2 separate regions of the Homo sapiens genome follow, and region 2 is linked to region 1. The links come from fine-mapping of genetic effects on gene expression. A gene starts in region 1. The other region holds a variant in brackets. All regions are shown on one strand. Distances are between the middles of the regions.

Region 1 (14,603 bases):
AGGTTTCCAGGGCTTCTTTCCCAGAAAACCTTAGTCAACGGAGATGCAGTGCAAGGACGGAAGTGAAGACACCCCATGGAACATCAGAAGCAGCCCAATCTTGAACACGGCCCCCACGCCGGCCAGCCATTCCCCTACCCGACGACACGCCTGGCCCCACACAGAGGCCACAGGAGAACGTGGTCCCTTTTCACCTCCAAGGCCAGACCCTCCTCCCGGGGCCCTGATCCCACCCTCTCTCTCTCAGCCCCCAGACCTCTCCGGCCCTCCCATGCCAGGCACTGCACTCTCCGTGAAGGACCACGCATGGTCTCCGTCACCACTACACAGCTCTGCTGGGGTGGAATGAAAGTGGCCACACACAAGACATCAACATGGGGTGTGCCACCCCACAGGACCTCACTTACAAAAATGTGGTAGCTGGACCTGGCCCATGAGCCAAGGGGCCTTGCTGAGAGTCACTGCACCCTGGCTCCCTGGCCACTACCCTCTCCAGGTCTCCAGCCCCACTTCCATGAGTGCCTGCGTCCACTCTCCTTGGCCATAGCCTCCTCATGCACCTGACTGCACAGGGCACAACCTCTCCTCCTTGCACCCTCTTTTTCCAGGTGAGACAACACAGGCCAGAAACTCAACATCACCCCCAAGCCGTTGCCTCCCAAACACCCACTCCAGCCAGACTCCCTCACGCTTCAAACTTGGACATCTGATCACTCGCTGATCTGCCCCCACCCCTAACAGGCACTTGAACTTCACATTCCTTCCATCAGCTCCTCCCCTATCACCTGCTGGGTATCTGCCCCCATCCCTAACGGGCAACCCAACTTCACAGGCCCTCCCCTATCACCCGCTGGGCATCTGTCCCTGACCCTAACAGGCACCCCAATTTCACAGCCCCTCCTGTCACCCGCTGGGCATCTGCCCCCACCCCTAACGGGCACCCCAACTTCACAGCCCCTCCTTCAGCTTTCAGCTCCTCCCCTATCACCTGCTGGGCACCTCCTCCCACCCCTAATGGGCACCCCAGTGTAGCAGCACCAGAGTCAGTTCCTCTCTCAGTAAAGTCACCACGGGCCCAGGACTTCTGACTCCTCTCTTCCTCCCCCTCAAGAAACATGCCATGAGCATGTCCTGGCAGCTGTGTCCCCACCCTCCACCCCAAGACCACATCACTGACCTGGCACAGGCATTGTCTGGGCCAACCAGCACAAGCAACACACTTGGGGGAAGGTGTTGTAGTCACAGGGACTCACTCATCACACACTGCAATCTGTACAATGGGTCTCTCTCAGTCTTTCCATTATATGTGTGCCCCCTGAATGAGACTCAATCTCCAGGAAACAATCTACTTTTAGTTACTTTCCACAGTTCCACCATCCAAGGCAGTCCTCCCTCCCTCCACACCTGGACAACATCTCAGGCAACCTCCTGACCTCATCCTGTCCCCATCACCCATTCCCCCTCCAGCAGTCAATGAGATAGTCATTGAACAGAATTAGAATATGTCACTTCTCTGCCCAAAGCCTTTCCCTGTGTACTTGGAATGAGATCCAAGTTCCTTACCGCAGCCTCATGGACTCTGCAGGACCTGCGGCCTCCCTGCCCTGGCCTTCCCCTGCCCTCTGCTCCCAGCAGCCTTTCCACACCAGGGAGTCTCATTGGTGGCTCCACTCCGCAGGTCTCTGTTCGGAGGGCTTCCTCGCCTTCCTAAGGCACTGTCACCAACCATGGCCCAAGCAAAACTCCAGAGAGTTGGTGCTTTCATGACTGTCGCACTACAGAAGGCACTATCATGGGAGGGCCGCAAGGCCCGCTACACACCATGGGCACCCAATGAATTTGTGCTGAGTTGACCACAACCACACCACATGGAAACAGAGCTGTGCCTATGCCCTCCTGTACCACATAGTTCTGCAATCAGTCCAGGTCCTGGAGCCCTCACGGTGTCCCTGCCTGTTGCAATCTGCAACCTCCTTCCTCCAGTGCAGGTGTGGGCCTGGGGACCCGCGCTGACCCTGAGAACACACAGCTGAATCCTCGAGGGAGGTCATGGCCAGGGGCCCAAGGGTGTCTGCAGCCAACCCACACAAGTGACGCTCTTGGGGAGGAAGTCTGCAGCACAGGGATGGCTCAGCACGCAGGGCGATCTGTACAATGGGTCTCTTTCAGCATTTCCATCACTCAAGGGTCCCCTGAGTGAGGCTCAGTACCCAGTAAACAACTTATTTTTAGTTAATTTCCGCAGTCACAGAACAAACATCTTGCACACCTTCCACTACCTCGCAACCAAGAAGCTAAGTGAGAACAGTGGTGGCTGTGTGTGCCCACAGGGGCGGTAGGGTGCGGCCAATCTTTCCAGGCTCCCCTCCCCTGCTCCTCAGACCCTCTTTCCACTCCCTCAGAGGTTCCCAACTCTAGCCACAAAGTGCAGACACCCTCACTGGGGCTGTTTGCATGCAACACAGTGACAGAGGAGCACATATTCGGCACAAAGCGTACTGCATTTTCTCCAAAGTGCTGACTTAAAACCCGTCCTGGCCAGGCACAGTGGCTCATACCTGTAATCTCAGCACTCTGGGAGGCTGAGGTGGAGGATCACTTCAGCCCAGAAGGCAGAGGTTGCAGTGAGCCAAGATAGCGCTATTGCATTCCAGCCTGAGTGACAGAGGAAGACCCCGTTTTAAAACAAAAACAAAAAACCATCCTAATGGAGTATTGTGTGGGGCCCAAGAATGTGGATTTCTTGCCATTCCCAAGCGATGCCAGGGCTGATCTAGCGGGCTCTGGGTGACACAAGCCTATGTTCCAGTCCCATGAGAGCTGATAACACTCCAGGCCTCCTGCGTATACAGTGGTGACACTGACCCGAGGGGGCACCCTGCGGACCAGCGAACTAAACCACAGAGTTCCATCTCAAGAACGAGAGCTCCATCTCCCACCAAGTCCTAGGGGCTCAGTGATCTCAGGGAGCTGTGGACCTGCTAGCCCAAATGCTCCTTTCTTAGGAAACAGGCTCAACCACGGAGCTGCAGGAACTCCTTCCAGGCAATGCCCACCTGAATTTCAGTTTCCCCATGAGGCAAACTCGGAACCATATTCCAAGATCTTGAGACAATTATAAACACTCTGCTCCCCACATCTTCCCCATTGGCCTCCCATGATCTGCATGCACCACAACCAAAATCAAATGACTACTAGCAATTAAGGAACAATATGTGGCAAGATCAATTAAGGTCAATTAATTGTCAATATTGAGGTCAATATGTGGCAAGATGTTACAGCATATTGTTAAATAAAAAACAAAAGACTAAAAGCAGCAAAAGTTTATATATGTATATTATACACGATGGAGAAAGAGACTGTGTATGTGTGAGTGTGTGTGCATACATGTGCGTGAACGTATAGGCAAGGACTGGGGGGAGAGAAGAGTGGAGAGAGAGAATGAATGAATGAATGAATGTATGTGTGAAGGAATGTAGAAAAGCCGGCTCTACACCAGGAATAAAAAACGGTCATCTCGGCTGGGTGTGCGGTGGCTCACGCCTGTAATCCCAGCACTTTGGGAGGCCGAGTCGGGCAGATCACAAGGTCAGGAGTTCGAGACCAGCCTGACCAACATGGTGAAACCCCGTCTCTACTAAAAATACAAAAATTAGCTGGGCGTGGTGGTGCGCGCCTGTAATCTTCGCTACTCAGGAGGCTGAGGCAGGAGAATCACTTGAACCTGGGAGGCGGAGGTTGCAGTGAGCCAAGATCATGCCATTGCACTCCAGCCTGGGTGACAGAATAAGACGCGGTCTCAAAACAGCAAAAACAACAAAACAAAAAACAAAAAACAAAAAAACCAAAAAAAACCAAAGCAAAAAAACCCCAGTCATCTCTGGACGGAACTGGAGGTGATTCTTTCTCTGCAACTGTAACTTCTCCAGACATTCTGATTCTCTAGTGTAAAAAAAACCCCAATAAACAATTGCATACCGTGATCACACAAGCCACAATAGGGCTGACTAGGAAGGGACCATAGCACGCACTGAATCACACAATCCCCAAAACAACTCTCCGCCTCCTGTCCCTGCCCTCATATCCCACCTTTACCTGGACTCAGACTCCCAAAACTCACTTTCCTCCTAGTCCTCCCTCCAACTCCTCAGACCTTGGTCCTCCCTCTTCTGCTCCTCCCTGTTCTCCTGGGTAAACCTCACACCCCTTGGAAAGAGTCTTCCAGCAAGGCTCAGAGCCCCAGCACTCCTAGAACCTCCCATATCCCCACTTATAAGAGTAAATAAAACAACATTTCCATTGCTTCATAAAGGGAAGGCAGGTGCCCCTCTCCCGCTTAGGATGCCTCTGTTTGGTCTGGAATGAGATAGCCCAGTGTCCAGATTTTACAAGACACAGTCATGGTCTGATGGCCCCTAGAATGTCATCAGACCTCCAAACCTAACTCAAAGGCCTCGCACTGTGTGCAAACCAGCACAAGCTGCCTCTCATTTCTCTGGGAGAGATGAGCGGTTCTAACTGTTCCTCCTTCCACCTCCCTGTCAAGACGCCTGGGAAATGCTGCCCAGACTCTGCACTCTCTCGCAGAGCACCTATGTGCACACAGCCTGCCAGGCTTCGGGGGCAATAAATCTGCTATCTTTCCTTCTGCATCCATGTGGGTAGCTTTGAGCTGATTTCTCCAGCACACCAAGACATACATCACATAGGGTCCCCCATGGCCCCACTTTCGTGTCCTGGCCGAAAATCACAGAGTACCCTGATCCCTCTGTGCCCCAACCACAGGTTTTCCCCACCAGGCTTCAACCCAATCCAGGGCCTTTAACATTTCCAGGCATGGAAGAAAGTATCTAGGTTTACTACAAAGAAAACGGCCTTGGCCCTGAGCCAAATTCCTGAAACCTTCCTATAAACTCCATAACCCACACCCCTTCCAAGAGACATACCTAGGGAGGACATCCCTTTTCCCTTACTGCCCGTCTCGAGGACTACCGCAGCCCACTCTATATGAAAGTTCCCCTAACAAAACCTCTAGGCAGGGCCTGGCGCAGTGGCTCACACCTGTAATCCCAGCACTTAGGGAGGCCAAGGCAGAAGGATTGCTTGAGCCCAAACGTTCAACACCGGCTTGGGCAACACAGAGACCCTGTCTCTACAAAAAAAAAAAAAAAAAACAAAAACAAAAAAACAAAACTAAGCTGGGCATAGTGGCTCATGCCTGTAGTCCCAGCTACTTGGGAGGCTGAAGCAGAATTAAAGAATTCATCAAGCCCAGGAGGTGGAAGCTGCAGTAAGCTGTGATGGTGCCACTGCATACTGTCTCAAAAAAAAAAAAAAAAAAAAAAAAAAAAAAAAAAACTGCTCTGGGCTTACCATGCATTTAGCACTTCTTTCTTTGGTATCCCAACTGGTCCCACCTGAGGATAGTGTGGGGAACTCCCTTGCCGCCACTTTTGGGGTAACTCCAGTTGCAAGTTTGGCAAAACACTCCTCATGTCACTACTCCGATGTCCTCCCACTTCAGCCCTGCTCATGTGTACACAGCCCCAAATCCCTACCCACACTCCCACCACACCTTCATTTCACACCCTCCCTCATTCCCCACCATCTTCTCCAGACACCCGTCATCCCCTGGGGCCCCTTGCCATGCCCTCCAGGTCCCCTGTGGGCCCCATTCGCCCATCTAGGTTACCCTGCCCCCTCCAGCCCTCCCACCATTTTCCTCCAGGTCCCCACCATCCTCTCTAGATCCCATGTCCCCTCCAGGTGCCACTGATCCCTCCAGGAACCCACTGTCCCCATCCCTTCCAAGTGCTACCGTCCCCTCCAAATCCCCACTGTCCCCTCCAGGTCCTCAATGTCCCCATCTCCTCCAAGTGCCACCGTCCTCTCCAGGTCCCCACCGTCCTCTCCAGGTCCCCACTGTACCCATCCCCTCCAGATCCCACCGTCCTCTCCAGGTCCCCACTGTCCCCATCCCCTCCAGGTCCCACCGTCCCCTCCAGATCCCGTCTCCATCCCCTCCAAGTGCCACCGTCCTCTCCAGGTCCCCACCATCTCCTCCAGGACCCTACCATCTCCGCTAGATCCCACCATCCCAGGGCCCCCCAGCTCTCCCTCTGGGTCCCACCGTTCTCTCCGGGTCCCATCATCCCTGGGCGCCCCCGCACCGCCGCACTCCCGCCCCCAGAACCGCCTCTGTCCCCGCCCCTCTCCCAGCGCAGCCCGCATACCCCCCACCCCCCGGGGATGCGGGAAGGAGGGCTCGGGCTGTGTCAGCCACAGCGCGCGGACTGAGCCGAGGGCGGACGCTACGGCTTGGCTTGGGCCGGGCGCCCAACAGACCAACACCGTCGCTCACCTGAGGGACGCCAGACGAGTCCCAGAGCCGACCGCGGCGCCTCGGCCGCTCGGCGCCTGCGCAGTGAAGACCGCGGCGAGCCGCGCGCATGCGTGCAGGCCCGGAGCCCCAGGCGCTGGCGGGGCAGAAACGCGGCGCCCTGCGTCTTCTGGTTCCGAGGCTGGTCCTCACCGTTTCCGCTCCGGCGGAAGTGAGGAGGAGGGTCCTTCGACCCGTGCTGAGCTGGATGGACCGCGAGACGCGCGCCCTCGCCGACAGCCACTTCCGAGGCCTGGGGGTCGATGTCCCCGGCGTCGGCCAGGCTCCGGGCCGGGTAGCCTTCGTCTCGGAGCCGGGCGCCTTCTCCTACGCCGACTTTGTGCGGGGCTTCTTGCTGCCCAACCTGCCCTGCGTGTTTTCCAGCGCCTTCACGCAGGGCTGGGGCAGCCGGCGGCGCTGGGTGACGCCCGCGGGGAGGCCCGACTTCGACCACCTGCTACGGACCTACGGTGGGGCGGCGGCCGCAGACCCCGGGCGGGGAGGAAAGGCCGGCGGGACCCAGGCCCGGGAGGCCCCCGCCTAGAGAGGGGCACCAGGGAGGGTGAGGGAGGCCAGGCGCGTGGCCCCTGGAGAGTTCCTCTGCAGACGGTTTGGAGTGAGGACGGGGCCCAGGGAGATGGCATGGACCGTGCCTTTCATTTCAGGAGACGTGGTTGTACCAGTTGCAAACTGTGGGGTCCAGGAATACAACTCGAACCCCAAAGAGCACATGACTCTCAGAGACTACATCACCTACTGGAAAGAGTACATACAGGCGGGCTACTCCTCTCCCAGGGGCTGTCTCTACCTCAAAGACTGGCACTTGTGCAGGTAATGGGGCTTGGGACGCACCGAGGCGCTGCCTTCCCTAGCGCTGCGTGAACCCAGAGGCCTTTCTGATGAAGGTGGCCCCTGGGTGCACAACGGAGCTATTTTTCCCCGTGAGGCACTTTAATCAGTTTAAAAGAAACTGGATTGTCTTCCGCATGGCTGCAAGTGTTGTTCTTTGGGAGGTCAATATGGTTTTTTTTCCTTTTTTTTTGAGAGAGATCTCCTCAGCCTCCCTAGTACCTGGGATTACAGGAAGGCGTCTCCACTCCCGGCTTTTTTTTTTTTTTTTTTTTTTTTTAAAGAGACTAGGTTTCACCATGTTGCCCAGGCTGGTCTTGAACTCCTGAGCTCAGGTGATGCATCCACCTCAGCATCTCAAAGCACTGGGATTATAGGCATGATCAGTACTTTCTAATAAGCAGAACCATTGTAGTCAGACTGCCCCGCCCCCTCCCCCGCCAGCAGCGTCTGGCTCAGAGGAGGGTCTGGGGCTCTTTGGGGGCTGCAGCCATCTGGAAGCTCCACTGGAGCCGATTGGTCTCAGTTGCCCCACTCGTGCTGCCCTAGTCTCCTCGTGCCTCACGTGCTGTCGGTGGTGCCCTTGCGCCCTCCTCACAGGGACTTTCCGGTGGAGGACGTTTTCACCCTGCCTGTGTACTTCTCGTCCGACTGGCTGAATGAGTTCTGGGATGCACTGGATGTGGATGACTACCGCTTTGTCTACGCGGGGCCTGCGGGCAGCTGGTGAGGCCACGGATGTGGGAGTGGAACCCGAAGGGGCCTGGTGACAGAACGGACTGGGAGGCCCAGGGTGGCAGGAGGGGGGCTGCTTGGCACAGGCCTCACAGTGGGTGCCATCCCTTGAGACCAAGGGGCCACCCCTCCTTCAGTTGGACCAGGCCTCTGGGGTGCCAAGCAAAGCCCATACCAGCCCCTACAGGCATGAACCAGGCGCTCTTGCTGCCGCAGGTCCCCGTTCCATGCTGACATCTTCCGCTCCTTCAGCTGGTCTGTCAATGTCTGTGGGAGGAAGAAGTGGCTCCTCTTCCCCCCAGGGCAGGAAGAGGCCCTGCGGGACCGCCACGGCAACCTGCCCTACGACGTGACCTCCCCAGCACTCTGCGACACACACCTGCACCCACGGAACCAGCTTGCTGGCCCACCCTTGGAGATCACGCAGGAAGCGGGCGAGATGGTGTTTGTGCCCAGTGGCTGGCACCACCAGGTGCACAACCTGGTAATGTGCTGCTTCTCCTGCCCCCTATCAGGGGCCTTCCTGCAGGAAGACGGCAGCACCACCTCCCCACTCTCCCAGCCAGAGCTGGGCTGGAATGGGGTGGCTCATGGGTGAGGCTGACCCCTTCACAAGGTGGTGTCGCTGAGGCCTAGCCTCTGTTTCACCCACTGCCGGTCCCTGGGTCTACTTGCTCTGGGTTCACTGTGGCCTGAGGTGGTCCGAGCCCGCCACCCACTTCCCTGCTGAGCAAGCCCTGCTGGGAGACAGGAGGGCCCTCTTGGCTGCAGAGGGCTGGACCCCACAGTGGGTTCCTGGCGCAGGAGATGTGGGTTGGTCAGGGGGCACCTGCCATGGGCTCAGGCCTGCCTGCACTGTGCCCCTTCCAGGATGACACCATCTCCATCAACCACAACTGGGTCAATGGCTTCAACCTGGCCAACATGTGGCGCTTCTTGCAGCAGGAGCTATGCGCCGTGCAGGAGGAGGTCAGCGAGTGGAGGGACTCCATGCCCGACTGGCACCACCACTGCCAGGTGGGGTGGCTACGCATGGAGGCTACCCTCCTGGGGGAGGCTTTTAGGCTGCATGGCTCAGACTCCCTTGGTCACCGCGCAGCTTCTCAGTGCCTCTGTCTTAATGGTCCCTTCTTCGTCCTTGGGGACTGGGCGCATGTCGGGTCCTTTGCAGCTTGGACTGTGTCCATGGTGTTAGCTCACTGGCCTCTTCCCTCTGCCCAGGTCATCATGAGGTCCTGCTCGGGCATCAACTTTGAAGAGTTTTACCACTTCCTCAAGGTCATCGCTGAGAAGAGGCTCCTGGTCCTGAGGGAGGCAGCCGCTGAGGACGGTGCTGGGTTGGGTTTCGAACAGGCAGCCTTTGATGTTGGGCGCATCACAGAGGTGCTGGCCTCCTTGGTTGCGCACCCCGACTTCCAGAGAGTGGACACCAGCGCGTTCTCACCACAGCCCAAAGAGCTGCTGCAGCAGCTGAGAGAGGCTGTTGATGCTGCTGCGGCCCCATAGCACCTGTCGTGAGGATAGAAGGACGGGTGGAAGAGAGGCAGCCTCCTGCTCCGGGGCCCTTCCAGAAATAAAGACCGCCCTCCCTGTGACCTGGGGCCCACCCCTGTCGAGGCTTGTGGCCTGGCTGTTCATGGCCACTGCCTGGGTGCCTGTTTTCAGGTGAGGCCCAATGAGGTCAGGGACCCAAGATGGGATGTGGCCCTTCTGACCTGCAGCAGGCCTGCTGGGAGCTCGGAGATGGTGCCAGGACCTGGCTCTTTTGGGGGCCCTGCCTCCTTAGGCCAGGACGCCTGAGCTGACAGGAGTCTGTGTCTGGTGTGCCTTCTCTGGTGGCTCCTCTTAATAGGCCAGCCCTGTCCCCTCGTCTCAGGCCATTGGACCACCCCTGGCTCTGCCCTGTGGGTTCAGGGAGGGGTTGGAGCAGTGCTGGGCAAGCTCACCAGGGCCTCCAGGCAGGGCTGGGGTTGGCCTCCATCACCTCCAGGTGATGGGCTGTGGAACCAGCGGCCTGCGCCTTCCTCTGGGTACCCAGAGTGGAGGGCTGGGTTGGGCTGGCCTTTGCCACCTCCCTGCCTTTGCAGGGCCTGTGGACAGCTGGAGAGGCCACAGATGGGGTGGAATCCCATCTGCTGCTGAATCCTCACCTGGGCCTGAGGGACTGTGCCTGCTGTGCACTCACAGCTGGGTCTTCCCAAGGATGCTGTTCTCAGGAGTGGTGGGTCCCCAGCCCCTCTTCACACTGGGTATGATGGAGGTGTGGGCGGGCTCGTCCAGGCCGATCAAGGCACAGCAGTGAGCAGCGGAGGCCTGTGGTGGGGAATGGACTCTCGTGGGATCCTCTTGCAGAGGATGCCCCAGGCCTGAACCCTCTAGTGGATCCACAGTTTGTGGAGACTGGCACTCTCCCAGCCCTGTCCTTGACCGAGAGTCCAGCATTTTTTCAGTTGGCCCCTGGTTGGCTGCCTCACCCCAGCAGGGGAGGAGGCATCCGAATCCACAGGGACGGCACGTGCCATGGCTATGCACATTGCCTGCCCGTGGCATCAACTGGGGCCGCTGGCACTTGTCTAGGATGGAAGCCCCCAAGAAGGGCAGGGGTTTCTGTCTGCTCTGTTCAGTGAATCATGTGAAGTGCTTGCAAAGGCAGCTTTACACAGTAGGTGCTTCATATGTGTCTGTCGAATGAATGCGCTCCAGCCAACAGCTTTCCAGGGACCTGTATGCTGGGCCCCCCTGCTAGCTCCCGGGGACCCCTGGTCTGTACGGGAATGCCCTGAGACATCCGGCCTCCTACAGATGGAGCTGGCGCTGCCCAAACCACGGGCAGCAAAGGTGCTTTGTCGGGGAGGAGGGGGAGGTAGCAAACATGCACGGCTGCAGCCTTGCCAGGACCAGGCCCAGGCTGAGTGTGGGCGTGGCTCACCCATTTAGCCCCTCCGGTAACCTCTGAGCTTGGGCCTCTTGGCACCCTGCCACACAGGCACACCTGAGGCCAAGAGTGGGGGTATGTGCCTCGGACACTGCCAGCAGGCAGCTGAGGTGACCTGTCCTTCAGCTTCTGTCATGATGAGGGCAGCACTGTGGACCCCAGGGCAGCCAGGGCCCAGTGCGAACTGGCAGCACAAGGTAGCACAGGTCGCAGCCCATTACCATCCAGGCTGCTTGGTCCTGCGCTCCTGAACTGTATGTGAAGACCCTCATGCTTCCGCAGTCAGGAGGCAGTGCACAGACGCTCCCGAGAGCCCTGCTAGCCTCAGTCACTTTTTCTTGGTTAAAGCAGGCATTGAGAATCTCAGGCTGGGGCTGTTACAGATGCAGCAAAAACAGCAAATGCCAGAAGCTCTGTGGGGGGAGATAGAGCCCTCCACAGGGCAACGGCTGAACTGCAGCCGGCATCGATGACTCCATAGTCAATGACCATGACTCCTTTTGCATACCTCACTCCAGATTGGCAAAAAAAAAAAAAATGCTGACACCAGGGCCAGGTGGGTTGTGGGGCAGCCGCTGTGCAGAGTGTGGCTAGACAGCAGTTTGAAGTGTCAGGCAGGATGCCCCTTTCCCAAGTATGCCGCCCTGGGATCCTGTCCGGGGTTGGGGAGGCATGCTGTCAGCACATGTGAGGGCCTTCGCAAAGGGAATTTCACCTCTGCAAGAGGCCTGACAGGCCACGTCTCCCTGGGAACCAACCTCCTGGGGTACGAGGTGAGGAGCTGCAGATGTGCGGTGGTTAGCCCCTGCCCTTTGCGTGTCATCCCTATCAAGTGTGAGAAAGGACAGGCAGGCTGCAGCTAACTAGTGTTCCTGAGGAAAGGGGTCAGAGAAACAATGCAGATGCTCAAGACCTAAGGCTACGTGGGAGCTGCACATAGATGGATATACTTGCAAGTGTGGGGACAATGGCTGTGCACCCCACCATGCCTGGGTGAGGGCGTGCAGTGGCCCAGATTCCTTGGGGAGTGGGACCTGTGGGCCCCCATAGGAAGGCTGGAAAAGTCAGGCCCTGCTGTCTGCACAGACTCTAGCCTGGGAGGACACAGAGTGAGGGAACATGATGGGGCCTAGGGGCTCCTCCAGCACGTGCCTGCCCTGCCCTGGGCTTGCAATTGTGATTGGCTGGAATCCATGGAGGTGGAGACAGGAGCCCCAGGTCAAGTTGTTGCTGGCTGTGGCAAAACCAGGCTCCCTGCATCCTGGGGGCTGTGGCCTCCGGAGAAGGTGCCTCCCCCAGGGACCAAGACCATCCTCATGCTTGTGCCTTTCCGCCTGCTGACCCAGCCGAAGGGGCAGCTCCTTGGCCAGCTACCCTGAAGCCCACATCCCAGGTCTGGGGCATCCCTGAGAGCCACATCCAAGGCCACATCCTTCCCTTTGCTCATCCATGCTCCAGAGTGTCAACCTCAGCCCTGTCCCCCATCCACCACTGTGGGTGGTTTTGGCAGGTGATTGTGCCAGCGTCCCACAGAACTGCAACTACCAGCTGCACCTTGGGTCCCCAGGCAGAAAGAAGGCAGGCCCTGGTTTCCAAGTCAGTGACTTGTTCCACTGGCCTAGAAGCCAAGGGTAGGGACCAAGATGTCCAGTGTCCTGTTGTCTGTACCCCCAAAGTCAGCAGCCCTGGAGGCAGGAACTCCAGGGACCTGGGCCTCTCACTCCTGCCTGGGGTCTGACCCCAGAAGTCCCCTTCCACAGGCCCCAGTTACCCTCCCACTGCAGGCTCTGACCTACAGGAAAACAGCTGGAGCTGGGCTCCTACCCTGTTCCTCTGGGAGAGCCAAACCCTGTCCTGAAGCTAGAGGAAAATCCACGGGCAGAATCCTGCAGACGCACACCCCAGATAGACCCCACCTGGGGCCCCACGCCCTAATCAGACCCCGCCTGGACCCCTCGCCCCACCTAGAGAGCCGCAGCTCGTGGATCCTGGCCTTCCTCTGCAGCCTGCCGCCCCCCTCCCCTGCGTGAAGGCACCAGAGTGTCCACCCCCGCGGCCCCACTCAGAGATGCGTGCCTGCTCCCATCGGAGGCCTTCGGCTCCGCGGCAGGGCCTGCCTGCTCCCGAGACCGTTCCCCTCGCCTCTCCTGTCGGGAATCGGGGTCTTGGGTATTACCTTCAAATCCGGCCATCTTCCCGCCACAGCGAAGGAGAATCAGACAGCCCGTGCCAGGGACGTGGGCCAGGTCCTCACTGCCCTTGCTTCTGGGACCCTGTGAGGGCAGGAACCGGAGCCTTGCCCTCATGACTTTGGTTGGGGGCAGTGCCAGGTGGGAGGTTTCCTGTCGGGCACTAGGTTGGGGCGGGAGGCGGGGCGGGGCCGGGAGGGACAGGCGGGGAGGGGGCGGGAGGCTGGATCGAGAGGGCAGGGGCGGGAGGAAGGAGGCGGGACCGGGGCGGGAGAGCCAGGTGGGGCGGGGCTGGGAGGGAGGCGGGGAGAGGACGGGATGGGAGGGGCAGGCGGGGCAGGCAGGGCGGGCGGCGGGGCCCAGGACGACCCTGGGGCTTCCCTGGCTTCAGGTCCCTTCTGAGCACAGCGGGGCCCGCCCCCCCCGCTCCGGTGGCAAGCACCGGCCCTGCAGCCCCAGCCAAGAAACCCAGTAACAACCCTTCCCTACCCTTGTGTTCCGGGCAGCGGGACGCCCAGGGTCCAGCGAACCCTGCAGGTGCAGGAGCAATGAGGCGAGCCTGGGAAAACCTCCTAGCCCGGAGGTGCCCGTTGACTCACCGCCTGTGGTTCCAGCAGGGACTCTGTGCGCCACAGACTGTACAACCCCAGGTCCTTGTTCTCCCAGCCCGGCAGGCTGCTGTCTGTTCAGAAGGAACTCCAGGCAACTTAAATATGTGGAATCAATCAGTGCACTTCAAACTTATGAAAAGGTCGAAGAAGAAATGAAAAGGGACATTAGAAAATACACTGAATGGCCGGGCGTGGTGGCTCAGGCCTATAATCCCAGCACTTTGGGAGGCCGAGGTGGGTGGATCACCTGAGGTCAGGAGTTCGAGATCAGCCTAACCAACACGATGAAACCCCCGTCTCTACTAAAAATAGAAAAGTTAGCCGGGCGTGGTAGCGCAGGCCTGTAATCCCAGCTACTTGGGAGGCTGAGGCAGGAGATTCGCTTGAACCTGGGAGGCGGAGGTTGCAGTGAGCCAAGACTGTGCCACTGCACTCCAGCCTGGGCAACGGAGTGAGACTGTCTCTAAAGAAAAAGAAAACGAGGAGGTCTGAGAAGTTCCCAGGTATGTGCAGTTATCTCTTCACGTCACCTCATGGGTCCCATGTGCAAACTGAGGGGGAGTTAGTATGAAACATGCATCGAAATTCAGGCCATGAAGTCAACAAGCTCATTCTGTGGAAATTCCGGCTGGCCATATTGGTTCCAATTGGTTTCAGGCAGTTTTTTCTTTTTTAAGAGACAGCCTCCCTCCATGTTGCCCAGGCTGGGGCACAGTGGCCTGGAACTCCTGGGCTCAAGCGACCCACCCACCTCAGCCTCCCTAACAGCTGGGACCACAGCATGCCCGACCACGCTAGACTTATTTTTACTTTTTGTAGGGACAGTGTCTCCCTGTTTTTTTCTCCCTCAATTTTTTTTCTTGATATCATAACATGGGGGAGTTTCAGGGTTTCAGCAAGTTGTT
Region 2 (14,541 bases), 45 kb before region 1:
GGGAACCCTGAGTGTGCGGAGCAAGCCGCTGAAGGCCGGGACCCTGGTCCCGCCGCCTCTCCCGCGGTCTCCTCCCTGGGACTGAGGTGCCCATCAAGCGTTCCGTATTCGTGACCAGTGGGCAAACTATGACGTCCCCTCTCGGGCTGGCCGGCAGCAGTGCCCCGTGTACTGGACAGGACTCCTGACCTCACTGCTGTAAATACTCCACCGATAGAAACCACTGAATTAAAACATGTGGAGCAAATTCTAACATCTCCATGTCGGAGGCTTGTATCCAGCTGGCCTTTTTCACAGCAAGTCAACAGAGCAGAAGCAGCCCTTCTTTTCCTGGGGCTTGCAGTTGCTGTGGGCCGCCACACCTCCCTGGCCCATCCTGGCTTTCCGGGCTGGCTGCCACCCTGCAGCCGCCATGCCCGGGAACTTGTAGCAGCCAGAGGGGCCTATGACAGGTGCCACGTGCTTCTCAGCAGCAAGGTCTCTCCACAGTGCGCTGCGTGCCTTCCACCTCCCTCAAAGACATCAAGGGAGGGGAAAGGAGGGGATGTCTCCCAGGCTCACCACCTCTGTGGGACGTCTGAACACAAGTGACCATCAGGAGAGGCATCAGTACATCTCCATCAGCCCCTGAGCTGAGGGAGGAGGGCAGCAGTGGCGGGTGGTGACATGTGCTGTGAGTGGGACAAGAAATTGCAGAGAGGTGGCAATGCCTACTCACTGGGACCTGCGTGCGGGGTTGGGGTGAGGTTCCCAGTGGGTGGGACACTGTGTCTTCAGAACTGTGCGTGGGATGTGTGGACATCCCCACGTTATTGATTCAGAGACAGACATTCAGAGACGGGAAGTACTTTCCTGAGGCCTGGCACACAGTACATGGAGGGATGAAGCATCCACCCCGACCAGGTAAGCGAGAAGGGAGGGCTGGCCCATGGACTTCTGGATGGAGGAAACGCTGGGCGGTGGATCCCAAGATGCCTGAGACTCCTGGCCCTGGTGCACTGCAGCTTCTCTCAACCCCTCAGTCAAACACTAATTAAGGGCTGGAAAGGATTCTGCAGGTGTCATTAAGGCCCAATGATAGGGGTTGGCTGTGTCCCCGCCCAAATCTCATTTTGAATTGTAATCTCCGTAATCCCAGGTCGCTGGGAGGGACCTGGTGGCAAGTGACTGGATCATGGGGACAGTTTCTCCTATGCTGTTCTTGTGATAGTGAGTTCTTATGAGATCTGATGGTTTTATAAGCATCTGGAAATTCCCCTGCTTGCACTCACTCACTTCTTCCTGCCGCCCTGTGAAGGTGCCTACTTCTGCTTTGCCTTCCGCTATGATTGTAAGTTTCTTGAGGCCTCCCCGGCCATGCAGAACAGAGTCAATTAAACCTTTTTTTTTTTTTTTAATAAATTACCTAGTCTCAGGTATTTCTTAGACCAGGTGCGGTGGCTCATGCCTGTAATCCTAGCACTTTGGGAGGCCGAGGCGAGCAGATCACGAGGTCAGGAGTTCGAGACCAGCCTGATCAACATGGTGAAACCCTGTCTTCCAAAGTGGCTGCACCATTTTGCATTTCCACCAGCAATGGATGCGAGTTCCTGTTGCTCCATGTCCTCCCCAGCAACTGGTGGTGTTAGTGTTTTGGATTCTGCCCATTCTAGCAGGTGTGTAGTTGTACCTCCTTGTTTTAATTTGCAGTTCCCTAATGGCATGCGATGTGAAACATCTCTTCAGATGCTTATTTGCCATCTGTATATCTTTTGGTGAGGTGTTTGTTATGGTCTTTGGGTACCACTTTTACTTGGGTTTTAATTTTTGCTGAGTTTTAAGAGTTCAGAAAAGTTTTTTTTTAGATTTTAGCATTGTTATTAGAGATGGGGGTCTGGCTTGGTTGCCCAGGCTGGTCTCAAACTTATGGCCTCAAAGGATCCTCCCCCGTCTCAGCCCCCTGAGTTGTTGGGAGCCATGCCTGGCTTCAAGAGTTCTTTTTCTATTTTGGATGAAGTCCTGTGTCAGACATCTTTTGCAAATATTTTCTCCCAGTCTGTGGCTTGTCATTTCATTCTCTTGACAGTGTCATTTGCAGAGCATTAAGTTTTAAATTTTAATAAAGTCCAGCTTGTCAATTTATTGTTTCATGGATCATGGCTTTGTTATTATGCTATATCTAAAAAGCCATTACCAAGGGAATGTAAATTAGCCACCAATTAACCACTAGGGAAAACAGTTTGGAGGTTCCTCAAAAAACTAAAAAGAGAGCTACCATATTATCCAACAGTCCCACTGCTGGGTATATACCCAAAAGAAAGGAAGTCAGTATATCAAAGAGGTATCTGCACTCCCATGTTTGTTGCAGCAGTGTTCACAATAGCCAAGATTTGGAAGCAACCCAAGGGTCCATCAACAGACCAATGGATAAGAAAGTATATACACATTCACACAATGGAGCACTATTTGGCCATAAAAAGAATGAGATCCTCTCATTTGCAACAATATAGATGGAACTGGAGATCATTATGTTATAAAGTGAAATAAACCAAATACAGAAAGAGAAACTTCACATGTTCTCACTTCTTTGTGGAAAATTAAAACAATCAAATTCATGGAGATACAGAGTAGAAGGATCGTTACCAGAGGCTGGGAAGGGTAAGTGGAGGTTTGGGGAGGAGGCAAGGATGGTTAATGGGTACAAAAATACAGTTAGAAAGATGAAATATGCCCTTTGATTTGACAGTACAACAGGGTGACTATAGTCAATAAATTGTACATTAAAAATTACTAAAAGAGTATAATTGGATTGTTTGTAAAAAAGCATAGAAACCCTGTCTCTACTAAAAATACAGACATTGCATGTCTGTATCAAAACATCTCATGTGCCCCATAAATACCTATTATGTACCCACAGATATTAACAATTAAATGAGTGAAAAAAATTTATAAGCTATCATCGTACCTAAGGTAACCTACATTTTCTCCTATGATATATTCCAGGACATTTCTAGTTTGCATTTTACTTTTAGGTCTATGATCCCTTTGAATAATTTTTTTTTTTTTTTTGAGACAGAATCTCACCCTGTCACCCAGGCTGGAGTGCAGTGGCGTGATCTTGTCTCACCTCCGCCTCCCAGGTTCAAGCAATTCTCCTGCCTCAGCCTCCCGAGTAGCTGGGATCACAGGTGCTCGCCATCATGCCCAGCTAATTTTGTATTTTTAGTAGAGACAGGGTTTCACCATGTTGGCCAGGCTGGTCTCGAACTCCTGACCTCAAGTGATCCACCTGCCTTGGCTTCCCAAAGTGCTGGGATTACAGGCATGAGCCACCGCGCCCAGCTCCTTTTCATTAATTTCTGTTTAGGGTGTAGGGTCTGTTTGATTTCTTTTGCACATGCGGACATCTAGTTGTCCCAGCACCATTGTGGGACCATTTTCTGCATTGTGGTGCCTTTGAATCTTCTCAGAAGATGAGTTGACTATATTTATATGGGTCTATTTCTGGGTCCCCTAATCTGTTCTATTATTTGTCTCTCCTTTTACCAATAACACACTGGTTTGGTAACTGCAGCTTTGTAGTAAGTCTTCTAGTCAGGTAGCGTCAGTCCTCCAACTCTGCTCCTCTCCTTCAGTATTGAATTGATTATTCTGGGTCTTTTGCCTCTCCATAAAAACTTTAGGATCATCTGTTAATATCCACAAAATAACTTGCAGGGATTTTGATTGAAATTGCATTGAATCTATAGATCAAGCTGGAAGGAACAAACATGTTGAAAATACTGAGTCTTCTTATCCATAAACATGGAATTTTTCTCCATTTATTTGGTTCTTCTTTTGTTCATCAGGGTTTTGTAGTTTTTCTCATATATATAGAAAGAGTACACTTTTTTTAGACTTGTACCTAAGTATTTTATTGTTTGGGGGTGCTAAAGTAGAAGTACTTTGTTTTTAACTTCAAATCCACTCATCCATTGTTGGTATATAGGAAAGTGATTAACTTTTGTATATTTTGAAATCTTGAATAGTTGTTCATTATTCTAGGGGATTTTCTTGATCCCTTTTTACACTTTCTACCTGGAAAATGTCATTTGTGAACAAAGAGAGTTTGTTTCTTCTTTCAGTATCATTAAACTTTAACTTCCTTTTCTTGCCTTGTTCCATCTGTTAGAGCTTAAAGTGCTGAAAGGAGATGGTGAGAGCGGATGTATGGGCCTTGGTCGTGATTTTAGTGGGAAAGTTTCTACATTCTTACTACTGTATATCATGTTAGTTTTGAGGTCCAGTGGACAAGGAATGGTCAAGTGACACAAAAGGCCTCACCTGATATTGCAAGGACTTGCTGACAGTGAGAGGTCAGGGACAGGGGAGACCCCACCCACACTGTGAAGTCCTGAGAACAGCGAGGGGTCAGGGACAGAGGAGACCCCACTCACACTGTGAGGTCCTGAGGACAGGGTGCAGCCTCTTCCAGGCTTGATGGGGGTCTGCACGGTGGCTGCAGGCATGGTGAGCCCTTGCTGCCGGCTCCCAGCACTGACAGGAGGGGGGGCCATGGTGTCCGCATGCCTTGGGCTAGGCTTGAGGGCCAACACTGGCCTCCTTGGGGTGTCCAGACAGGCTGGGAGCACTCACTCACCTGTGGCCTTAGTGGAAGGACCCCAGAGGGGACAGGGCAAGGTCTCCTTCTGCAGGCTGCTAAGTATAAACCAAATAAGAAAAAGCAGAAAACAATTTCCCAGATCAAACAAAAAATAACATCAGAGTGCTGGGTGCAGTGGCTCACGCCTGTAATCTCAGCACTGTGGGAGGCTGAGGCGGGCGGATCACTTGAGGTCGAGAGGTTGAGACCAGGCTGACCAACATGGAGAAACCCCATCTCTACTAAAAATACAAAGTTAGCCAGGTGTGGTGGCGCATGCCTGTAATCCCAGCTACTCGGGAGGCTGAGGCAGGAGAATCGCTTGAACCTGGGAGGCGGAGGTTGTGGTGAGCTGAGATCATGCCATTGCACTCCAGCCTGGGCAACAAGAGTGAAACTCCCTCTCAAAAAAAAAAAAAAAAAAAAAAAATCAGAGCTCCCTGGGCTGTGGCTTTCTAGAGAGGCTGCTTCCCAGTTTTCCTGCCAGGCACCTGCACTGGCTCTGGCGACTGGCATTGCAGCCCCTAGTCCAGCTGGAGCCTCAGAGCAGGACCTCCTGTGGAACTGGGGTCTTAGCAGACATTCTCAGTGAGTGACATCAAGACCAGGCCATCCTGGATTAGGTTGGGCCCTGGACCTGTGGCAGGCGGCCGTGCAGGGTCCTCCCCAGAACCTTTGGAGGGAGCACGCCCAGGATATCTCAACGTGGGGCTTCTGGCTGCAAAGCTGCGAGGGCCCCTGTGTGTGAGGCTCACTGAGCAGCCCTGGGAAGGCAGCACCACTGGGCATTGGGTGCACCAGCGTGGAGGCCCCACAGGCTGGGCCGTGGCACCATCCTGGGACTCGCCTCCCATGTGCCCGCACCCTTCCTTGCAGCCCTGCACGGGGCATCTGAAAGCAGCATGGCAAAGGGGCACCACCCGCAATGTGACGCGCAGTCCCGCCAGAGGCCATGCTCACCTACCCCAGGGCCTCTGAGGGAGTGGCCACTGACCCAGACACAAGGCACCAGGTGGAAACACTGGCACCCATCTTCAAAAACCACTCTGAAGCCAGCATTTCCCTTTATTTCTGGATGGAAACGGGGCCCTAAAAGCAGAAATCAATATTTTTGTTTGAAAGATGCAGTCATGCTAATTTCACTTTTGGCTAAAACCGAGACGATAAAAGAACAGTTGGGTGTTTATAGGATGCCCTCAAAGTGAGCTGGCTAAGTGAGCTGGGCTCTAACTTCACTCACAAATTTATAGTACAGCTAAGAAGGCCAGTCTGTCCATGAAAGGGAGCCGAGACAAGACGAGGGCGGCCTCTTCCAGGCCTGTGCCAAGTGTCCTTGGGGTCCCGCCATGGTCCACACTTCTGCAGCATCCGCAGAACATGTGGCCGGGTCCTGCCCAGCAGCAGGGACAGCCAAGTGGGAGGCAGGCATGGTGCACACCTGGGGAGGCCCCTGGTGCAGAAGCAGCCCCACAGTAGCAGCCCCATCCAGAGGAAGACCACTCCGGAGGGCCACAGGCCTCTGCAGCCCTGGCACTGCCGCCCAGCCCTCCATCTCAGCGGGATGTGCAGGGTGAGACAGGAATGCAGGGACGTTCTGCCCCTAGGTCAGCCTCTTCATCCGCCTGTTGTGCTTGTCGATGGTCAAGGTTGCCCTGTCCACAGCTGCTGCAACGCCATCCAGGGCTTCGTCTTGTCTCTCCAGCTCACTCTCGGCCTCCAGGGCCAGCCCCTTCATCCTCCTCAGGATCTGGGGAGAAGCACAAGATCACAGCAGAGGCTGCCATCTCTGCAAACTCTAGCACAGACAACATCTCCCCCTCTCACACACCCAAGAGCCTTTGCGTTACCACCTGGGTGATGCCATCTGCGAGCCAGCAGGAGGGAGCCGGCAGCCCAGCACCAGGGTCAGGTCATGGCTCTGCCTCTGCCAGTACAGGCCTGATGAGATGAGGTGCCTGCCCCACCTCCTGCCAGCTGCCTGCCCGCACCTCCTGCCTGGTGCAGTGGCCACACCCTGGCCTGCCATCTCCAGGCTGCGGAGTGCTCTGTTTGGCTGACCTTGTGGGAGCGTTGCATGTGGGTGTGGAATTCCTGCCCACAGTGGGGCAGCTGGGGACCTGGGCACGCAGCTCGGATTTGAGTCCCAGCTCTCACCCAGCCACTATGCTGGGTGAGACCTGTCTGCATGTGGGTCCCTAACTGCAGACTGGAGTGGGAAAGCAGGATTAAAAAGAAACACAAACCCCTTCTCTTGTCTCTAAGTGTGAGATGTTTCATGCACAATGCAAATGACAGAATGAAACTCTCCATACGGTGGAGGGCAGCCAGCACCGTGGGGGTGTGGGAGATGGTCCCCGGCCCAGCAGATGCAGAAGGTGGAGGCACGCAGGGCCAGGCAGGTGTGGATAGGGAAGGCTGGATGGGGTGGGCCGCCCCAGGAATGCTAGCACAGAGATGTGTCCCCTGGTTGCAGCAGGGGCGATGAGCTAAGGGCTGAGCTGGTGCTGTGTCTGTGGCTTAATGAGCTGTGTTCTATGAGGAATCTAGGAAGGTGAACCACACTGTGAAGCGCTGCTTTACACACTCAGCCTAGGTCTAGAAGCCTCATATGCCCACCTGACAATGGAGAAGAATACACTGGAAAGGAAACTTGAGTGACCCACCACTTGCAATAAATGTCCATGTCCTCTTTCAGGGAAAGTTCTGGATCACTGCTTAGGTCAGGAGAAGGAACCCTCAGTGCTGTGTACCCACCAGTTGGACAGCAGTGACCATCCAAGGTCTAGGGCGTGGTGATCTTGAGGGGGGCCCCTACAGCTCCTCTGGTTGCCTCTAGGAACAGCACTCCTGAGCCCTGGGGGAGCAGCCTCCCCACGCTCCGCCCAGTGACATGGCGGGAGGCTCAGCATCCTGTGGGGTTGGGCAGCCAGGGCAGGTGATTCAGTGCTCCCCAGCAGGGTGGCCAGCAGTGGGACACATGCAGCTTGGGATTCAGGGTCACAAGCAATGCCCCCGCCTATGGTCCGGCCTTCATCTGACCCATGAGAAACAGTATGAAGGCGGCCAGGACAGAGGGCCAGCTGGTCAGATCCAGCTCCCTCCACTGAACGGTGTGGCTCACATGAGATCACAAATGCGAACAAGCTGTGAAAACCGGAATGGGCCCAGCCAGGGTGGCTGCCATGCTGCAGAAGGAGCCCTTCCCCGGCCAGCTGCCCAGCCCCTCTGCAGATGGCACAGGGAGTTGGGGGCTGAGGTCACTCACAGGCACACGGCAGAGGTGAAATGAGCCACATGTCCCTTTCCAAACCTGGCCTTCCTGCTGAGATATTTGTCATAAGACAGATGAATAAATGCCTGACTAGAGCCCCAGTCCCAGACAGCAGGGCTTCTACACCCTCGGGAGCTGGCAGAAACTCCATCTGTTGAGTCATGACTTAGATCGCTGGATGGGGCTCTGGAAAGTATATGGTGGGGTCAGTGGCTCCAGGAGGACGGGCAGATGACCTCACACAGGAGGTCTTTTCCACCGCCTGGCCCATGATCTCACGTGGCCCACACCCAAATTGTGCTGTGACAGGGAAGAAAGCCTCAGCCCACCCCTTGCTGGCTCTGCTAACCTGCTCCCTTCTCACCTGCCCCTGCTGTCAGTGTGATCCTGAGGGCATTGCTGGAACCAGCAGGCACAGCCCTTGGAAGGGATGGCTGGGCTGCACACTCACACTGTCCCTGTGCCCACATCCTGTGAGGAGGCCTCCTGGAAGCCAGGGACATGGATCCGCTCGGGATCTGGTCTCAGTCCCTATGTCCCTCGTCAACCATACTAAAATGTGATTTAAGTGTATTTAGAATTTAAATGTCCTTCAGGGCCACAGGGCTCCCATGAGCTGACGGCTGGGGAGATGGCCCAAGGCCCCTGCCAGGACCCACAGCTCCAATGCCTCCCACTAGCCCCTGCATCAGCTCTGCCCTCTCCATGACCATGGCGTGCAGTGCTATCAGGAGACACCACTATTTGTCTTTTCTGTTAATAACTGCATGTAGAAAACCAGGAAACATGAGAGAAGTTAAGGAATAAAACAAAATCTGCCCATAATACAGACCACTGTTAGGCTGGCACCATCAGTGACACAAGCACACTCCTATCTGGCTTTTTCCCCCGTCGCTATGTCCATACACTCTTGCGAATAACTCAAATTTGGGATTAAAGTACATACACAACTTTGTCTTCTGTTTTTACCATCCTATAGCTATCCTGAATGAAAGCTGAGTTATTGGATATGCAATGTAAGCTGACATTGTTCTAAGAACGTGGCACATTTTATCTGTTTCACAGAGAGGGTGACCTGCCCCCGGTCCTGAGGATACACTCATTGCACATAGAGATGCTGTGGGGCATGACCCAGACCACATCCCGGGTCACCGCCAGAAGTCCTATACCCCTTACAGATGGTGGCAGGGCCCTGGGACATCCAAGGGAGGCTGGGCCAGGACCTGCTCTGGCTCTCTGACTGGAGT[G/C]TCTTTGGCAGGATGACACTAAGAGTAGCTGAATAAGCTGTATTAAATCTGTCTAACCCTGACCCAGATGTTCAAAGGTAAAAATGATAGGGAAAACAAATAAAATACTGTACTGAACCCAATAGACATAGAGTACCATTTGACATACATCAATGCCAATAATTATTAAACATACATCATATTCTTCTTTTATATACAGTCCTAGCAAGCCGCCATGAAGGTTACACTACCTACGGCAAGGCCCAGCAGAGACCCGCAACAACTCAGGGATCAGGAGCCACATGGAGATCAGGACCACAGGGAGGCATGAAGCCCGTCCACCTGGGGCCACCTCCACACAGACCCCAACAGCCCCACACTCCCGTTCACTATCTTCCCCACAAGACGCCTGTCCCCCAGGGTCATCTCCAACAGACCCAGGCAGCCCGGCACCCCTGTGCGCCACCTTCCCTGCAAGGCTGAGTGGTGCGTGCCCAAGATACTGGCCGTGCTAGTGACCCTGGTTGTGATGTGATCACTTTATGTTTCATGTATGGAAAACTTCACTACGTAACCCATGAGTATGTACAATTATTCTCAACCTAAAAATATTGTCTATGACATCTCCCCAGAATATAAAGAAGAAAATAAAATAACTTTTTTTTTTAAAAAAGACATCAAATTCATGCCTTTTTCTAGTGCATAAGAAAGCAGTGGGAATAGCAAAAATTTCTATAGTTTAGGGTTTTGCCTATTAAGCACAGTAATAATATGCACAATTTATTTGTGACTAAGACCAGCTGATCTGCCTATAGAAGCGGAATATTTTATTGTGTACACAGACAAAATAAAGGCTGGCTCCTGCTGTACTTTTTGATTTGAAAATGTCTCACTACGTTGAAGGCCTTAAAAGAGAACTCATTCCAAATAGCCTGTTGAGACCCTTGGCCTGCCTGCCAAAATTGCACTTGAAGTTAATTAATAGTGCAAAAACACAAGAGCGATCTGTACAGCTGCTAGGTCTGCAGACAAAGAACATTCCTGAGCGAACCTTCAAACTGCTAGTGTCCTGGAGTGCAGGTCCAGATTCTTTTTCCTTTGAGAAGGGACTGAAGTAATTACATGGCATCGTGTGCATTCCACATAACAGGGATGGAAAGAATGGAGAATGTGAAGTCTGGCCAAACCCTAGAAACAGTTGTTCCTCTGCGGCCTGGGGTGACAAGCCATCTAGCCATTGTGCAGGATGCTGTCAGCTCCGAGGCAGCCAGTGGCCTCACACAGGAACCTTCATGGGCTCTGAGTCAGAGGCGAGGCGCAAATCAGACTTCCTTGAGTCCCTGCTACATGAGTAAAGAAATCCAGGAACCAGCCTTCCTTCCAGCCAGTTCGACCTCCACAGAAACTACCTGATTAAAAGTGCTTTGGGTTTTGGGGGAAACAAACTTTTATAAACTTCAAAGAAATAGAGCAAGGAGTGCTTGAAGGACAGTACAATCCAGGCTGGCCCTGGGGCATGCCTGCGAGCCAGACCTGATAGAAGTGTTCCTAAGAGAAGCTGCAGCTTAGAGCATCAGTGGATGCCTGGCCAGACCCATGGCCAGACTCTGTGGTCCTGAGCGGCTTGTGGGACCCGCTGAGGGCGTCAGAGCCAGGAAGGGGAGCAGCCCTGGGTGACTCAGGCAGGCAGCAAGAGGCACAACCTGAACAAAGAAACGCAACTGATGCGTGGCTGACACTGCCAGCTTATGGCCATGGTCCCCCAGGATAGCACCAAAGCCACTTTCCTCCAACACATCCGTGAGGAGGATGCCCTGGGCGCTGTGGGCCTGGCCGGCTCCCTCATGCCCTGAGCAAAGGCTGTTCTGGAAGAAAAGCTTCCGCTTGCTGCCCTGCTAGGAAAGTCTCTGTCTCCACAAAGCTCCTGCAGACTCGGAGCAAAGCATCACCAACACTGTCTGGGTTGACAGCGACATAGGCCGGAAGCCCTGCAGAGCAAAAACAAGAGAATTTAGCATTCTCACCATTTCCATTTTGTTTATAAAGGCAAAAAATAAATATAGAAAAATAGCCTAATGAAGTAGGGTGGGCCCACCTACAAAGCAGCTGTGTGTCCATGCGCGCACCATTAGGGCAAGGCTGAGTGCTGGGGGCCTGAAGACGTCCCAGCCTTGTGCGTTCGCTGCCACCAGCAGCCCGGGAAGACAGTGCTCCAGAGGCACGCACGGCCTTGGCCTCCAAACTCTGCGGGACATCGGCTCTTGTGTCCCATGGGACATGTCTGCTCTGGCTCGCCTCGCGACGCCGGAGTGCGGCACATCACCGTACCAAGCCAAGCACCGAGAGCAGTCTGCTGTTAGCTGGGCTGCCCTGGCCGTGTCATTAAGCTGACTCACTGAGGAACTGTGAATTTTCTTGCAGTGAGAAATTAGCAACCATTTAAGAACAGAGCTGGGATAAATCAAGCTGTCTACAACTCAAAATAGTTCTACCAGTTGGGGCCATTAATATGCTGCAGAGAATGTAAAGGGGGAAAATTGGCTCTCACCGCAGCCAAGCTCTGGAGGCCGTAAAGAACACTCTCTGCTGCGATCTGTCACACTCGGCACTCGCAGACCACCCTGCGGCCCGCCCAAGTCCCCTCCGCTGCATTCCTGGAGGCCAAGGTGGTCTGTGCACTAGCCGGGGGGGCAGATGCAGGGCCCCCCTCCTCAGGACGCCCCCGCGGCGGTGGGTCGAGGCAATGAGCACGGCGGCCTCGCTGCTCAGAGGGGACTTTGATTCAGCCGGGCCAGCTGAGCTCACTCCAGGCGTGCACAGGAAACGCCATGCAGAGCAAGGAGCTGGGCCTGGACTGGATTGTCCTGCCCAAGAGCGCTCCCTGCTCCTAGACCAGGGATGGAGATTCCCATTAAGAGACCCGAGTGCTTGAGGGACGATGAACCCTCACTAAAGTGTTCAGTGAATGTGAACTGAGTGCCACTGAAGGTGCATCGCACACGTGGAAGAACCTCAGTGGTACCCTCAAAATAGGAAACAAACTGAAAATGCACTAAAATGTGGCTCTTTCAAGAGGTTGGCCACAGCCCCACAAAACCCACTTCCCAGCCTGAACCAACACGGCCAGAGCTGTGGCCAATGAGTCTGCTCCCAACTTGCCAGGCACCTCATGCTCTGCCCTGCGCGCTGCGGCCCGGTCCCCCTTGCCTCTCACCTACACCTCGAGGCGGGACACTGCTGTGCATGGAGGGGACAGGAACAGGGCCCAACACTCAGGGCTGTGACACACAGCTCAGCAGCAGCCACAGTGCTGACCCCTGCCATTGAGGGCCACTCTGCAGCCTCACTCTCCCGGTGGGTGACACCTGGCCCAGTGAACCTACCTCCGGCATTGCTCTTTCATCCTTCAACACATGGTGTCAACAGCTGCACAAACCCACTTCCCAGCCTGAACCAAGACTGCGTAATACCTGCTGACCACATTTAAAGGCTAGCAAACGTGTCAAAATGAACAGAACAGCTAAGCAGAGGATCCATACAGAAACAGGAACAGGCAGCCTGCACAGCACTATAAACCCATGGCCCAGGAGACCAGTGCAGAGAGCTCCACCTACAACCGCAGGAGCCCATTCTCCTCTGTACCAGATGCCTCCATGGGCCACAGGCTGGGAGATGGGCCACGGACTGGGAGGCAGCCCTCAACAAGCCTAGAGAGATGGATCCACAGCAGGTGTCTCCTCCAACCACAGCAGAGGGAAGCTAGCAACACGGCAAACTGAAGTGTTTACAAATTAAACAACCAACAGGTGATGGAAGGGAAATTAGTAAATTATTTGAGATGAATGAAAACAAAATCATGATATACTAAAATAGTCATGTGCTGCCTAATGATGTGGATGCATCCTGAGGAACCATGGCTCGGGGTCTCATCGTGGGACAACGCTAGAGTACACATACACACACTGAGGGGGCAGGGCCTGTGGTGGCCGGCTGTGTAGCGGGGCACACCCCCCCAAGCTGCAGGCCTGCATGGCACACCACAGCACCAAGCAGCACAAGTAGCTGGAGCACCACGCTAACTACCTGCACATCTAAACGTGGAGAAGGTGCCGTAAATGTGCAGCATAAAGATACGAAATGGCACGCAGTGTAGAGCGCTTCCCGTGAGCAGGGCTGGCAGGACTGGACGCGGCCCTGGGTGTGTGGTGAGTGAGCGTGAAGGCTTAGGCATGACTGAACACTACTGTGGACTTTATCAACACTGCGCACTAAGGCTCCACTAAATTTATTTTAAAAAGTCTTTCTTCAATAACAGGTGAGCCTTAGCTTCCTGTAACTTTTGTATATTACAAACTACGATTTTCTTTAACTCTGACTCTTCTGTAATAAAATTTCAAACACAAACACTATATAGCCGTGCCAGAATAATTTTTCTTTATATTCTTATCCTATATGCTGTTTTCTCTTTTTAACTTATTTTATTTTTTACTTTTGAAACTTTTTTTTGGCCAGGCACAGTGGCTCATGCCCATAATCTCAGCACTTTGGGAGGCTGAGAAGGGAAGGCTGCTTGAGCCCAGGAGTTCAAGACCAGCCTGGGCAACATAGGGAGACTCCATGTCTACAAAAAAAAAAAAAAAAAAAAAAAATTAGCTGGACGTGGTGGTGCACACCTATAGTCCCAATTACTTGGGAGGCTGAGGTGGGAGAATCACCTGAGCCTGGGAGGCGGAGATTGCAGTGAACCGAGATCATGCCACTGCACTCCAGCCTGGGAGACAGAGTGAGACCCTGTCTCAAAATAAAAAATACAAAAAACCTTATGACAAAGCTACAGTAATCAAAACAGTGACATTAGACTGCAAAATGGAATTAAGTGAGAAACCAGAGATAAACTCATATTATCTATGGCTAACGGATTTTCAACAAGGGTGTCAAGACCATTCAATGGGGAAAGAACAGCTGGTTTACCAGATGGTGTTGGGAAAACTCGATCTGGACACACAGAAGAATAAATCTGGGTCCTCACCTCACTCCGCACACAAACATTAACTCAGAATGGGCTCACAACCTAAAGAGGAAACCAAAACCACAGAACTCCTAAGAAAACATGGGGGTAAAGCTTTATGATCTAGGGGTCTTAGAGCATTTCCCTTGATAATAAGAGGACCACTGTGTACCCCAAAGACTTGAGAGCAGGGCCTCAAACAGATGCTCACGTGAACGCTTACAGCGGCATTCTCCATAGCAGCCCAAAGGAGGAAACAGCTCGTACATCCACCAACAGAGGGGTTTTCAGTGCATGGGCCCTGAAAACCGTATGCCAAGTGAAATAAGGCAGGCACAAAAGGACAAGGGCTGCGTGACTCCCCTGCTGTAAGGAACCCAGAGTGGCAGGCTGGCAGAGAGGGAAGGCAGAGTGG

What was found. PIP is the estimated chance that this variant, and not a neighbour inherited with it, causes the effect.
Region 2: its variant is fine-mapped to the expression of SNAP47 in whole blood (TOPMed, PIP 0.92).

What each region holds. Positions count from the first base shown.
Region 1 is chr1:227,727,258-227,741,860 of GRCh38, reverse strand. It overlaps SNAP47 (synaptosome associated protein 47), which reads right to left and starts at 6,426. Exons shown (of 5, transcript NM_053052.4): 1 at 6,362-6,426. JMJD4 (jumonji domain containing 4) reads left to right here and starts at 6,559. Exons shown (of 6, transcript NM_023007.3): 1 at 6,559-6,849; 2 at 7,045-7,210; 3 at 7,829-7,954; 4 at 8,180-8,447; 5 at 8,834-8,980; 6 at 9,185-10,670. The coding sequence starts at 6,588. The coding sequence ends at 9,469. RefSeq lists silencers at 1-89, 6,088-6,377, 6,838-7,037, 13,341-13,680 and enhancers at 77-621, 622-1,167, 11,491-11,540, 13,354-13,959.
Region 2 is chr1:227,772,354-227,786,894 of GRCh38, reverse strand. It overlaps SNAP47 (synaptosome associated protein 47), which reads right to left. Exons shown (of 5, transcript NM_053052.4): 5 at 5,669-6,368. The coding sequence ends at 6,222. LOC105373289 (a long non-coding RNA gene) reads right to left here and starts at 83. Exons shown (of 2, transcript NR_168381.1): 1 at 1-83. RefSeq lists enhancers at 8,006-8,788, 12,013-12,830 and a silencer at 10,101-10,301. The variant G/C (reference allele first, on the strand shown) is at 9,140.